2 linked regions of the Homo sapiens genome follow. The protein of the gene in region 2 interacts with the protein of the main gene of each other region in a pairwise test. Each region holds a gene or a part of one and is shown on either strand. Other genes may lie near its edges.

Region 1 (4,178 bases), on a different chromosome or scaffold from region 2:
GTCCTGCTGCCCACGATACCCACTGTCCACCCTAGGGGGACTGGCCGTAGCCCTGGAGCCCGCAAACACCATGCAGGAATGCAAGAGGGTCTCAGCTCCCGAGTCCCAGGCTGGGAGGGCCCACAGTCCAGTAAACTAATCAGGCCCCGACACATCCAGGAGAGCAGCTCCAGGAGCCTGCATTGGGGAGAGAGCCTCAGACCCCTGCCACAGGCCTGCACCCCAGAAGTAGGAGCATGGGAAGACCTCTCCTTGGCTCCTGGCCAGCAGAAGTCACATTCCCCAGCCCTCTGGCTCCAAGGCAGCCTCACGTCCCAGTCACTCCTTGGCACACCCTACCAGTTGGTCAGAGCTCACTGCCAAAGGGCACCTCAATGATGAGTGGAGGGAACAGGTGTTTACCAGGAGCTTGCATGCTTTGCCTCAGGGATGATTAGGGACACAGCCAAGAAGGCACGCTATGCCCATTTTACAGATGAGGAAACGGAGGCTCAGGTTGGGCTGGTGACTAAGGGAAGCAGCATGTGGCAGGTGGCTTGAGGCATGTCTGTCCATCATGAGTAACTAGGGAGCAGCCCTGCCACTCCTCATGCGATGCACCAGGAGCCAGGGAAGCTGCTTCCTAGGGGATTCTAGCTAAGGCCAGAAGCATCTCCCTGAGTGGTGGTGGAGGCCTCTGTCTACTCCTCCAGGACTGCCAGGGGATAGGAGGGCACTGCTGACCTCACAGAGCCTCTTGGGTGAGTGAGCATCAGCTGAGCGACACCAGGTGACTACGCTTCTGCCCAGTGCTGTGCCCCCCTCTGACTCGGGCAAGGCACCACCCTGAACGCCCCACCCTGTCCCATGGAGGCCGCAAACTGCTCTGCAGAGCCAGGGTCTCCAGGAATGGGGAGGGCAGTCACCCTCATTCCACTTGTGTTCATGACTCAAAGGACTGCCCAGGTCTCCAGGCCCATAGAACCCCCAAACCTCTTACTAGGCCACACTGGGGACCTTGAGCAGCAGGCTTGGAATCCTAGGCCTTGTCTCCAGGTACATATCAGTACCCAGGCTTGGGAAGCTTTGGTCTCAGGGGGGCTGGCACTCAGGCCCTCTGCCTCAAGGAAGAAGCATGTCCAGATCTCTACTGTCCAGCCCTGCTCCCTGCCCCTATCCTTCACGGGGTCCCTAGGACAGGGTTACAGAAGCCTCATGCTGTCAGGGGATGCTGCCACCCTAGTTCCAGGGTGGCTCCGCCCAGCCCCTTCCTGCTGCCGCCCTCACTGACTCACCTGTCCAGCCTCCTACTGGGCTGGGGTGAGGGCTTATTGCCCCAGAGCCTAGATAGGCACCAGAGGCAGCTATAAAAGCATGTTGGGCCAGTCCTCAGCATCCTAGTTCGCCACTGTCTGCTGCCACACGATGCTGGGAGGCCTGGGGAAGCTGGCTGCCGAGGGCCTGGCCCACCGCACCGAGAAGGCCACCGAGGGAGCCAGTGAGGACCCAGGGCTCCTTTCTACCTGGGCTGGGGGGATCTGGGGCAGACTGGGTCTGTGGGAGGCGGATCTACGTAGGCAGGCGAGGACCTGCGGGGAGGCCTTGGCCCCTCAGGAACCCTGGTCTCCTGCTCTACCAAGTCAGCACGGAGTTGAGGGGTGCAGACCTGGGGAGGTCTCCTGGGGGCAGGGCATGAGTCCTGGTGCTGGGTGAACACTGGCAGCTTGGACCCTTCCCTCTGGAAATCTGGGGAGCCTTTCTTGTCAAAACAGCCTATTCTGAATAACCTATGCAGGAAAAGGAAGATGGATTTTTATTTTTACCATAACTTTAAAGCTTCAAAGATTTCTTAACAAGTCACCAAGTCTGTTCAAAGTCAAAAAGGGCATTTTCAATTTCATCCAAGTCCCCTAAAGCATGTTTATTTTTATTTGTATTTGTATTTGAAATGGAGTCTTGCTCTGGCACCCAGGCTGGAGTGTAGTGGTGCGATCTCGGCTCACTGTAACCTTTGCCTCCTGGGTTCAAAGTGATTCTCATGCCTCAGCCTCCTGAGTAGCTGGGATTACAGGCACCCACCACCACGCCCGACTAATTTTTGTATTTTTAGCAGAGACGGGGTTTCGCCATTTTGGCCAGGCTGGTCTCAAACTCCTGACCTCAAGTGATCCATTCCTCTTGGCCTCCCAAAGTGCTGGGATTACAGGCGTGAACCACTGCACCTGGTCCCGAAGTGTATGTTGTATTCAGAGGTCAGCAGGTATGTGTGGGGAGGCCCAGCCAGGCCCCACTCATGGGTCATCGTGTGAAAAAGTCTTGCCTGAGTTTGTGTCCTCTTTCTAAATGGCAGCAGATGCGTATTTTGTTTTTGACTCTGCAGCTGGTGTGGACCACCTGCTTTAACCTTTCACTAGCCTCTGAGTTTTTTATGATTCCTGTTGGGAGAAAAGCTCAGCGTTGGGAGAAAAGCTGAGGCAGGGCTTGCTAGACTTGCTGGCTCCTTGCTTCTAGCACTGCCATTCTCTCAAGTAGCCATATGTTTCTCATTCACTTGATACACTGTTTCCTTTCAACCTCCACATCCTCACCACCTGTTTCTTTGTTAGATCACCAATAAATAGCGTGGGCTCCCAGAACTCGGGGCCTTCGCAGCCTCCACACTCGCGATAGCGCCCTGCTCCCATTTTCTCTCTCGAACTGTCTCTTTGTCATTCCTTTGACTCCGCTGGACTTGCCGCCCCCGTGACCTGGTGTTGGGTCTCATCATCCCAACAGATTCCCATTCTAAAGATGAGGGAACCAAGAGGTGGAAGGTAGAGTTAGAATAAGAACCATTTCTTCTGACTCTGAAATCCTTCAGTTCTAGCACGCTACCACCCACACTTTAAAAAACTCTGAAGTAGGCAGAGAATTCCGTTTTGTTGGAGGAATTGCTTTGAGAGACCTGGTCTTAGTGGATGAGGCTTTGGAAACCAACCTGAGGCAGGCGCTAGCACATCCTGAGAGGGGTGTGACCTGGCACACAGGCCCAGCCTGGGCTTCATGTCTCAGCTGGCAAGACTGCCTGCTCATTGCCATTCCAGGCCGGGCAGGGCCAAGGGGCTTCAGGGACCCATGCCCTCATGGGGCTCATTGAGCTCGTCTCCCAGCAGCCAAGGCCCTGGCGTCTCCAAATGAAGCCAGCTGTGGGGGAAGGTCCTTCTCATGAGTCAGTCTGTCCTGGCTGGGGGTGGCACCCCAGAGCCCCATCTAGGATGCCCAGGGATGTATAGGTCTGTTGTGAGGATAAGCCAGCCCTGAGCCCTCACCCTGGACTGGGAGGGCAGTGGGCCTGCTCTGAGCCCTCACCCTGGACTGGGAGGGCAGCGGCTCTGCTCTGAACCCTCACCCTGGACTCGGGGGCAGCCGGCCTGCTCTGAGCCCTCACCCTGGACTTGTCTCCTCTGTTCAGTTCATGCCGTGGAGGAAGTGGTGAAGGAGGTGGTGGGACATGCCAAGGAGACTGGAGAGAAAGGTACAGCCGGCTGAGGTCGGGCAGGGAAGGAGGGAGGGAGGAAGGGAAGCTAGGTGCTGGGCCAACCTGTTCTTTGACTAACCAGGTCAAACTCTGCCCCTAATGTTGCAGCCTTTCAGAGCCTCTTGGCTGGGGCAGTTATCTATGCTCATCAGAGGCCACAGACTGTACTGCGTTAGGACACTGTCTAGATGGTTCTCTCTGTGGAATAAGAAGACAAAGTCACACAAGACTATGTGACAGCACACTGGGACAAAACATTTAACATGGCAGGGTGCGGTGGCTCATGCCTGTAATCCCAGCACTTTGGGAGGCTGAGGAGGGCGGATCATGAGGTCAGGAGATCGAGACCATCCTGGCTAACACGGTGAAACCCCGTCTCTACTAAAAATACATAAAAATTAGCCGGGCATGGTGGTGGGTGCCTATAGTCCCAGCTACTTGGGAGGCTGAGGCAGGAGAATGGTGTGTACCTGGGAGGCAGAGCTTGCAGTGAGCCTAGATCATGCCACTGCACTCCAGCCTGGGCTACAGAGCAAGACTCGGTCTCAAAAAAAAAGAAAAAAATAATTGCTGGGGGCGGTGGCTCACGCCTGTAATCCCAGCACTTTGGGAGGCTGAGGTGGGCGGATCATGAGGTCAGGAGATCCAGACCACGGTGAAACCGCATCTCTACTAAAAATAC
Region 2 (3,500 bases):
AGCTCTTTGGGGGTGCTTGGGATAGCAAGAGAGCCGATGGGCAACAGCTGCTTCTCTCTCCCTAGGAGGCCACATCAACAGTCATGATGTGTGGATGTTTAGCTCCCATCTGCACACCTGGATCAAGGTAGCCTCTCTGCACAAGGGCAGGTGGAGGCACAAGATGGCAGTTGTGCAGGGGCAGGTAGGCACGAGCTGCAGCGGCTGCCCTGGGACACAAGGTACAGATCTGTGGATGTGCTGGAGGGAGGTTCTCTAAAACCCTCTCTTTGTAAGAAGGGGTCTGAAGCCCCCCAAAAAAGGAGACTTGTCCAAGGTCACATAATAATGGCTGATGCTAATAATAATAGCAATTACTGTAATAGTAACAGCCTGATGGTCAAGGGTATGGGCTCTGGGGCCATAGAGTCTAGGTTTGAATCTTGACTGTGCCACTCAAGAATAAAAGAATCTGTCGGCCGGGCGCAGTGGCTGTAATCCCAGCACTTTGGGAGGCCAAGGCGGGCGGATCACGAGGTCAGGAGATCCAGACCATCCTGGCTAACACGGTGAAACCCCGTCTCTACTAAAAATACAAAAAATTAGCTCGGCGTGGTGGCTGGTGCCTGTAGTCCCAGCTACTCAGGAGGCTGAGGCAGGAGAATGGCATGAACCTGGGAGGCGGAGCTTGCAGTGAGCCCAGATTGCACCACTACACTCCAGCCTGGGCAACAGAGCGAGACTTTGTCTCAAAAAAAAAAAAAAAAGTCAATTATCTTTGTAAGCTACATCCCGAATTCAGAAACAAAGATGCTTCTTAGAATCAATTAAGTGGGGTGGTAAAGTCTCAATACTAGCTATTATTATTAAGCATCAGCTTGGTGCCAGGTATTTTACAGCTGTAACCATGCAGGTTAAGGTCTCATCCCCGCTAAATGAGAGGAAACCGGCTCAGGGAGGTACAGCAACTGGGTGGAGGCTGCCCAGGTGGTGGCAGCACTGGGCTCGGGGGTCAGTTTGGTCCTGAAACTGGGTTGGGGACAGGGATAGTTTCCAGCTCAAAGACTGTAAGGACTGAAGCGATGAGGCCGAGGGCCCTAAGGCCCTGGCACCCGGCTCCCCGGCCCATGTCCTCACTTGCAGCTGTTCGCGGTGGGTGGCTTCGACGGCCTGAGGCGCCTGCACAGCGTGGAGCGCTACGACCCCTTCTCCAACACCTGGGCGGCCGCCGCGCCCCTCCCGGAGGCCGTGAGCTCGGCGGCGGTGGCGTCCTGCGCGGGCAAGCTCTTCGTGATTGGGGGCGCCAGGCAGGGCGGCGTCAACACGGACAAGGTGGGCGTGGGCCTCAGGCGCGAGAGGGCGTTGAAGGCTGGGGTGCCCACTGTGTGCCAGGCGCAGAATTGGGCGTTTCCATGCCCTTGTCCATTTATTCACTTAATCCCATCAACAGCCCAGACCAGTCACCTCCATGTTTCAGGGAAGGAAATGAGCAGAAAAATGACCCCAAGGTCACACAGTGGGTCAGCAGCACACTGGGACTCAAATGTTTGGGCTGGTGCCATGTAAGTTTCATACATTTTAAAAATTGAGGGCAAGATAGTTAAAATGCTTTTGTTCCATTCCAAAAACAATACACTTACTACTGAAAATTTAGAAAACACAGAAAAATAGAAAAAAAAAAAACCCATAATCCCACCGTCTAGGCAGAGCTGCTATTCATATTTTGGTGTGTTGCCTTACAGGCTTCCACTGAATTGATTTTTGTTTTTCTTACAGTTTTGTTTTGTTAGAATTTTGCATTCTGCATTTTATTCTAATTTAGGTATGAGCATTTTCCACGTGATTATCAACTTTACAGCCATCATTTCAATGTCTGTACTATTCCACATGGTGGATGAACTAGAGTCTACTCATCTTTTATTGTTGGGACATTTAGGCTTTTTGCAAATAAAAATATTTATCATAGCAGTTCCTTCCCTCCCCTGATGGCCTCATAAGCCTGTGGTCCTAGGACTTGACTCTTTCCCAAATTAGGGTGCCCACGCTTCCTTATTCCCTGACCACATTCTTCCAGCAAACCCTCCTGGAGCTGAGTGATAGGCACTCATGGTGGGAGGCCCCATTTAACACCATCCATGCAGCACTGATTTGTTATAGGCTGCTGTGGGGGGAGGGGGTCTCCAAGGAAACAGTTGAGGAAACAGAGAGTGAGGTGAGCAGGCAGCTAAATACAGAAACTGTTAAGGGCATCAGAAACACCCATGGGCATGTGGACAGCTGTAGAAATAGGGCTGCAAGACACCTCAGCTAGAATCTAATGACCTGAGAGCACCAGGAAAAGAGAAGGGAGTTGACAGTGTATGCAGCTAGGAACACATCCCCGTCGGGGGTCTGCTCTGAGGACCCTCTATAACCCTAAAGCAGACAGTACCTCTCCCAGCTCAGTATGATGTGCTCTATGATTAATCTAACATGAGGCGACTGTGTTCTCCATCAAAGGAGAGACTGTTCCTGTGTGTGTGTGTTGAGGGGTGAGGGGAGGGGGGAACACCAGGGAGACCTTTAAGGATGGGGTGGCATTTGAGCAGGACCTCGAAAGATGAGGAGGCTTTTGACAAAGGGAGTCCAGAGGCAGAGGACAGAACATAGAACTAGATGAAGAGCCCTTGAGGGCAGGGACGGTGGACCTCCCCCTCCCTCCCAGATGCTGGCTCAGGCCTGGTGGACACTGGCAAATGTCGTTTTGAATGAGTGCCCCCGGGGGGAGAGGTGGCAGCATGTGGGCGGTGGGGCATTTGTTGGGGGGGGCGGTGAGTCTTCACCACTGCTGCTCTTGCCCCTCAGGTGCAGTGCTTTGACCCCAAGGAGGACCGGTGGAGCCTGCGGTCACCAGCACCCTTCTCACAGCGGTGTCTCGAGGCTGTCTCCCTTGAGGACACCATCTATGTCATGGGGGGTCTCATGAGCAAAATCTTCACCTATGATCCAGGCACAGATGTGTGGGGGGAGGCAGCTGTCCTCCCCAGCCCTGTGGTAAGTGGAGGCTTCAAGGCAGGAGAGCGGAACCCGCTTCTAAGGCTCTGGATCTTGGAGCTTGTGAATCTTGTGACTCCATCCTAGGTGGTTTTATTATACATCACTCTCTAGCTCATCCTCACAGTGATAGTGAACCATGCATTTCACAGATGAGGAGACTGGCCTTAGAGAGGTTCAGCACCTGGCCCAGGCCAACAACTAGGCCCTGTTAAGGCAGAGCCTAGAACCCTGCAGTCCCAAGTGCTATAGCTTTGAGTGGGGATTTGGTCCAAATGACCCTGTGGTCTCTCCTGCCCCGAAGGCCACTGCTAGTAACCAATCATGAGGTAAGATGTGGGGAAGGGAGTTGCTAAGGTCTGCTCTAGTGATATCAGAGCAGGGAGGCCCAAGTCCTGGAAGCTCTGGCCCCTGCAATTCCCTGCCTCCCCTACCTTCTTCTCCATCCCCTGAAACTCCAGAGACTACACAGATATGGTTGGACTGGA

The links. The genes of interacting proteins can lie anywhere in the genome.
Region 1: the proteins of KLHL35 (region 2) and FAM25G interact in a two-hybrid assay, tested with the Homo sapiens proteins (one large-scale study listed by BioGRID).

Annotation. Positions count from the first base shown.
Region 1 is NC_000010.11:47,488,901-47,493,078, reverse strand, and holds the start of FAM25G (protein FAM25G), read left to right. Parts: upstream 1-1,378; 5' UTR 1,379-1,404; coding exon 1,405-1,477; intron 1,478-3,430; coding exon 3,431-3,493; intron 3,494-4,178.
Region 2 is NC_000011.10:75,423,204-75,426,703, reverse strand, and holds part of KLHL35 (kelch-like protein 35), read left to right. Parts: intron 1-65; coding exon 66-184; intron 185-1,122; coding exon 1,123-1,311; intron 1,312-2,823; coding exon 2,824-3,012; intron 3,013-3,500.